2 linked regions of the Homo sapiens genome follow. The protein of the gene in region 2 binds, or shares a complex with, the protein of the main gene of each other region. Each region holds a gene or a part of one and is shown on either strand. Other genes may lie near its edges.

What was found. The genes of interacting proteins can lie anywhere in the genome.
Region 1: ZNF541 (region 2) and HDAC2 share a complex: the UniProt entries of both Homo sapiens proteins name them as parts of the histone deacetylase complex.

What each region holds. Positions count from the first base shown.
Region 1 is NC_000006.12:113,961,149-113,964,648, forward strand, and holds part of HDAC2 (histone deacetylase 2), read right to left. Parts: intron 1,247-3,500; exon of another isoform or gene 1,219-1,246; intron 1-1,218. UniProt on the Homo sapiens protein: Histone deacetylase that catalyzes the deacetylation of lysine residues on the N-terminal part of the core histones (H2A, H2B, H3 and H4).
Region 2 is NC_000019.10:47,524,649-47,528,148, forward strand, and holds part of ZNF541 (zinc finger protein 541), read right to left. Parts: intron 1-3,500. UniProt on the Homo sapiens protein: Transcription regulator which is essential for male fertility and for the completion of meiotic prophase in spermatocytes.

The sequences.
Region 1 (3,500 bases), on a different chromosome or scaffold from region 2:
GTCTATCATTTCAACACGGGTTTATATATTACAATAAAAGCTAGAATAAAAAATGCAATTTATCCACTAAATCTTTCAAAGTCCTCCCTAAATACACCTTTTGTTTGTTTAATGGAAACAACCCCAAAAACTTTTTTGTCCTCTCTCCTACATATTTGATAACAGTACGGGATAAACAATCAGCTTTTACAAAATCCATGCTTCTAATAACATAAATACTTGATTTTGTTGGTATCACACCTCTAATTTTAGTTAACTTCATTTTCAGCACAGCTCTCTTCTGAAAACAATTCATATACAAAGTCTTTTAAAGGGAAAGCCACCTTTTTAATGCAGGTGCCAACAAGGCTAAGAAACAATATAGAGTTTAGCAAAGCAGGGCCATGGCCCTTTGCAACATTCCTCTGCAATTATAATTAAGAGGCTATGATTGCAGAAAATAAACTACCTATTAAGAAAGAATCTACCATAAAGCTCTACCTTACATGGTGACAATACAAGGGATATATAGTTCCTTGAAAGCAGCCTGGTCTCATCATTTCTTAGATATGGAAAACCCACTAGTGTTATTACAAAGCATCATGTAATTAAATTAATACAAGGGAAGGCATTTCTTAGTTATCACTACTAAAGAAATCATTAAAGTAAAAATAATGAAAGTCTAGTCTTCACTAGAAATGCAGATTCTATGAGGTTTCGTGGGATGACCCTGCCCATAATAATTTCCAATATCACCTAAAACAGAAAAGACACAAACTAAACAATAACTTCCATCTATCTGCCTCTGTGTAACAATTACCCAAATGAAATGTCTCTAACATCTACCACATCATAACATCAAATACTCTAGTTATTTGATGCACACTGAAAATCCAGTGAAAAGCCCCAGGCCCCAATAATTGGAGACTACAGTAGCAATTTCTGAGCAAGTGTGTTTGAAAAAAAAAAAAAGCAGTAATTAACACTTGTTGAGTGCTTACTAGAAGGCACTATTAAGTACTTCACATATCTTTTAATCTTGTCAATAACCTTATGATGTGGGTATTATTACATTATTCCTATTGTATAATAGTAAAGAAGGATGAGAAACAGACAAGTCAGGTATTATTGCCTAAGTCACATAGCCAGCAAGTGGAGGAGCTAGATTCAAACTCTGGCAGGGCAGCTCACAGCTAATGTTCTTAAGTAATAACAACAGGGAATGTCAAGGACACTTACAGATTCACTAGAAATGGCAGGGTGAAGGCTGAAAAAAAGACATAATATGAAATATAAATATTTTAAATAAAGGCTTAGGGTCTTGGTTAATTTAAAGAAAATGAACACAAGAAACTGTACCTAATATATCAGAGTAATTTACTTTTTACTAATAGGGTCCTCAAATCGTATACGAATACGCATAGCTTTCAACAAGTTTCTCTGTTGAAATTTAGGGACCCCAGTCCCACAAAGAATACACAAAGAACCTAAATGATACATGTATACAGGGCAGCCAAGCTACAGATAATTTTTTGGTTTACCAAGAATTCTTCTAGCTGGGCGTGGAGGCTCACACCCGTAATCCCAGTACTTCGGGAGGCCGAGGCGGGCAGATCACGAAGTCAAGAGATCGAGACCTTCCTGACAAACATTGTGAAACCCCGTCTCTACTAAAAATACAAAAAAAAAAGCCAGGTGTGGTGGCATGCGCCTGTAGTCCCAGCTGCTCAGGAGGCTGAGGCAGGAGAATCACTTGAACCCAGGAGGCGGAGGTTGCAGTGAGCCGAGATCGTGCCACTGCACTCCAGCCTGGGTGACAGAGCGAGACTCTGTATCAAAAAAAAAAAAAAAAAAGAATTCTTCTAAAATATAAAGGCGTTATAAAATAACCATCTCCAACTTTTTCCCACTAATTCTGTATCTCACAATTCTCTAGATGGCTACTTTGTAGGCATCCACTTTGTTTTCTTTTTGAGATGGAGTTTCGCTCTTGTCACCCAGGCTGGAGTGCGGTGATGTGATCTTGGCTCACTGCAACCTCCACCTCTGGGGTTCAAGCAATTCTCCTGCCTCAGCCTCCCAAGTAGCTGGGATTACAAGCGCCCACCACCATACCCGGCTAATTTTTGTATTTTTAGTAGTGACGGGGTATCTCCATATTTGCCAGGCTTGTCTCAAACTCCTGACCTCAGATGATCTGCCCGCCTCAGCCTCCCAAAGTGCTGGGATTACAGATGTGAGCCACTGTGCCCAGCCCACTTTTTCATAAAGTATAAAAAGGCTAAGAAGTTTTAAGACCCTACAATTTTTATTCATCATTTAAATGGTCAGTAATGTATTAATAATTTGGGCATTTTAAATGTTACTGATTTGCATCAAAATACAGATTATCCCTAATCCAAAAATTTGATATCCAAAATGTTCCAAAATCTGAACTGTTTTGAGCACCAACTTAATAGTCAAGGAAATGCTAACTGGAGCATGTCAAATTTTTGATTTTCGAATTAGGGATGCTAACTGGTAAATAATTACAAATATTGCAAAACCTCCCCAAATCTGAAATACTTCTGGTCCCAAGAATTCAGATAAAGGATATTCAACCTGTACATAAAAATACTTTACCAATGAAATAAACATTCAGAAAAATCAGCTCAAGGTGGTTCCTTGAACACAACAAACTTTAATTGTCAATGCAAAGAAATTACTGTAAAGAATTATTTATCTGCAAAATTTTACAAATTGCTCACTCTTCAAGAAACTAACAGAATGGAAGTGTCTACTAAGGTCCACAATCTCTTATCCATATTCCTTCAAATTAGATATGTTTCAAATTTTACACTTTTTCAGATTTTGTAGAGATAATATGGTACACCTGCCATATATTATGTAATAGCCTAGAGTTTGGGTGGCATGATATAATCAAACATTAATATTTCTACAGCAAAAAAGTGTGAATATTCACGGTATTCACAGAGGAATAAAGATCATAAATAGCCTCACATTGATTCAGGTTAAGATTTTGATTCCAAATGAGTTACCAAAATTTTTTTCAATTTTCAGGTCATTTTGGATTTCAGAACTGTGAAATGTACCTTTAGCCACAAAGATAAGTTGACTGCAAAAAGAGACTCAGGAAAAAAAAAACAAGAGAAAAGAAAAAAGTTTATTATTTTCATCTTCCAGACTACTTAGCCCACTATCCATTTTTTATACATATTAACACATCTTTAATACATATTTCAAGGAGGTTATTCCTCCTTGAGACATTCGGAGCCTTGGCTTCCATAATACCATTTTCTTGGGATTTTACTTGTACCCCAAGGCCACTCCTCCACCAACCTTTAAACATCAAGGGTTTTCAGTTCAGCCATTCATTTAATAAATCAAGAGCCTACCATGTGCCAAGCAGGTACTGTTCTAAGGGTTTGGGTTCATCAGTGAACAATAGTTCTGCCCTAAATTCTCTTCTCTCGGGAGTTAAGTCCTGGGACCAGTCGTCTGTCTATGCTGTATCTTTTTCA
Region 2 (3,500 bases):
AGTGAGCTGAGATCGTACCACTGCACTCCAGACTGGGTGACATAGCGAGACTCTGTCTAAAAAAAAAAAAAAAAAAAGAGTTATACCAGAGCTAGGTGTGATTGCACACACCTGTAGTCCCAGCTACTCAAAGTTGGAGGATCACTTGAGCCCAGGAGGTCAAAGGGTGCAGTGAACTATGATCACACCCCTGTACTCCAGCTTGGGCGACAGAGTGAGATCCTAGATCTTAAAAGAAATAAGAACCAGTAAAACCTTCAAAACACTGCTAAGAGAAATTAAAGATGATGCATAGAGACACAGCCCCTGTTCATGAGTCAGAAACTGAATGTTGTTAGAATGTCAACTCTCCTTGGCTGGGTGCGGTGGCTCACGCCTGTAATCCCAGCACTTTGGGAGGCTGAGGCAGGTAGATCACCTGAGGTCAGGAGTTCAAGATCAGCCTGGCCAACATGGTGAAACCCTGTCTCTACTAAAAATACAAAAATTAGCCAGGTGTGGTTGTGCGCACCTGTAATCCCAGCTACTCGGGAGGCTGAGGTACGAGAATCGCTTGAACCCGGGAGGTGGACGTTGCAGTGAGTGAAGAGCGCGCCACTGCACTCCAGCCTGGGCAACGAGAGTGAAACTCTGTCTCCAAAAAAAAAAAAAAGTCAACTCTCCTCAATTGGCCTATAGAGCCAATGCAGTACCAATCAAAATCCTAGCAGGTTTTTTGTTTTGTTTTGTTTTGTTTTTTTTGGTAAAAATGGATAAGCTACTTAGAAAGTTCATATGGTAATACATGATCTTAAGACTTAGAAAGCTACAGTAGTAAAAACAGTATGGTATTACATTTTTTTGTCTTTTCAACAAAAGGTACAAATGAATATCCACATGCAAAAAATGAACTTTAACTCATACTTTACACCATATACAAAAATTAACACAAACTGAATTGTAAACCTAATTGTAAAACCTAAAACTATAAAACTTCTAGAGAAGGCCGGGCAAGGTGGCTCACGCCTGTAATCCCAGCACTTTGGGAGGCCGAGGCGGGCAGATCACGAGGTCAGGAGATAGAGACCATCCTGGTTAACACGGTGAAACCCCGTCTCTACTAAAAATACAAAAAATTAGGCGGGCATGGTGGTGGCATGTGCCTGTAGTCGCAGCTACTCGGGAGGCTGAGGCAGGAGAATGGCATGAACCTGGAAGGCGTAGCTTGCAGTGAGCCAAGATCTCGCCACTGCACTCCAGTCTGGGCGACAGAGCGAGACTCCGTCTCACAAAAAAAAAAAAAAAAAAAAAAAACTTCTAGAGAAAACAAGGGGAAAATCTTTGTGGTTGGGTTAGGCAAAGAATTCTTAGATACAACACCAAAAGCACAGTCCATAAAAGAAAAATTAATAAATGACTTCATCAAAATGACAAAATTTTTCTTTAAAAGACATTGTTAAGAGATTAAAAAGCTACAGATTGGGAGAAAACATTCACAAAGCATGGATCTGGATAAATGACGTGTCCTGAATCAATAAAGAACTGCTGTAACTCAATAATAAAAACACAGCCGGCTGGGCGCGGTGGCTCACGCCTGTAATCCCAGCACTTTGGGAGGCCAAGGTGGGCAGATCACCTGAGGTTGGGAGTTCGAGACCAGCCTGGTCAACATAGCAAAACCCCGTCCCTACTAAAAATACAAAAATTAGCCAGGCGTGGTAGCAGGCGCCTGTAATCCCAGCTACTCAGGAAGCTAAGGCAGGAGCATCGCTTGAACCTGGGAGGCAGAGGTTGCAGTGAGCATGGATTGCGCCACTGCATTCCAGCCTGGGCAACAGAGTGAGACTCCATCTCAAAAAAAAAAAAAAAAAAAGAAAACACAGACATCTCAATAAAAACATATGCAAGAGATATGAACAGACACCTCACCAAATAAGGCATACAGACAGCAAACAGGCCCATGAAAAGATGCTCAGCATCGTCAGTTGTGAAGGAAACACAATGCGATGCCACCACACTGTCATGAGAATGGCTGGAATTAAAAGGACTGGCCCTACCCAGGGCTAGCGAGTTTGTGGAGCAACTAGAAATCTCTTTTCCTGCCGGTAGGAATGTGAAATGATACAACTACTTTGGAAAATTGTTTGGCGGTTTCTTAAAAAGTTAAGCATACACCTACTAAGTCATTCCATTCCTGGTATTTACTCCTCTAGAAAACAAAGTACATGTCCATACCAAGACTGGTACCTGAATGTTCATAACGAATTTATTTATAGTCATCCCAAACTGGAAACCACTCAAATGTCCACCAACAGGCAAATGATTCTTTAAACCGTGGTACATCCACCCAGTGGAATACTATTCAGCAGTGAAAAGGGGAGACCTATCAATACCTGGAACATGGATGAACTCAAAATCATGATGCTGAGTGTGAGAAAGCTGGACCAAGTAGAGTCCATACTGTGTGACTACTCCATTTATAGCAAACTCTAGGAAATGAAAACGAATTTACAGTGCCCTGGCAGATCAGTGCTGACTGAGGACAGGGGGTGCAATGGGGAGTGATTACTATGTGGCAGGAGGAGATTCAGGGCTGAGGGACATGCTCATTATCTTGACTGTGGTGATGGTTTCCCAGGTATAGTATCAATATGTCAAAACTTAGCAAATCTTATTATACTGCAATTATGTGCAATTTTGTATACATCCAATTTTTTTTTTAGAACAGAAAATAAGCAGCAGGACATTATATGCAGTGAGATCTCATCCTTTGGCTTTTTTCGGGGTGGTGAGAGTCTCATCTTGTCACCCAGGCTGGAGTGCAGTGGTGCAATCTTGGCTCATTGCAGCCTTCACCTCCTATGCTCAAGCAATCCTCCCACCTCAGCCTCCCGAGTAGCTGGGACCACAAGCACGCGGCACCATGCTAGGCTAGTTTTTAACTTTTTTGTAGAGACAAGGTCTCACTATATTGCCCAGGCTGGTCTTGAACTCCTAGCCTCAAGCAATCCTCCCACCTTGGCCTCCCAAAGTGCTAGGATTACAGGCGTGAGCCACTGCGCCTGACCTCATCCTTTTTTTCTTTTTTTGAGACGGAGTTTCACTCTTGTTGTCCAGGCTGGAGTGCAGTGGCGAGATCTTGGCTCACCGCAACCTCCGCTTCCCGGGTTCAAGCGATTCTCCTGTCTCAGCCTCCCGAGTAGCTGGGATTACAGGCATGTGCCACCATGCCCAGCTAATTTTGTATTTTTAGTAGAGACAGGGTTTCTCCATGTTGGTCAGGCTGGTCTCGAACTCCCAACCTCAGGTGATCCACATGCCTCGGCCTCCCAAAGTGCTGGGATTACAGGCATAAACCACCACGCCAGGCCCTTTTTTTTTTTTTTTTTTTGAGACAGAGTCCTGGGCCGGGCGCCGTGGCTCACGCCTGTAATCCCAGCACTTTGGGAGGCTGAGGCAGGTGGATCACCTGAGGTCGGGGGTTCGAGACTAGCCTGACCAACATGGAGAAACCCCATCTC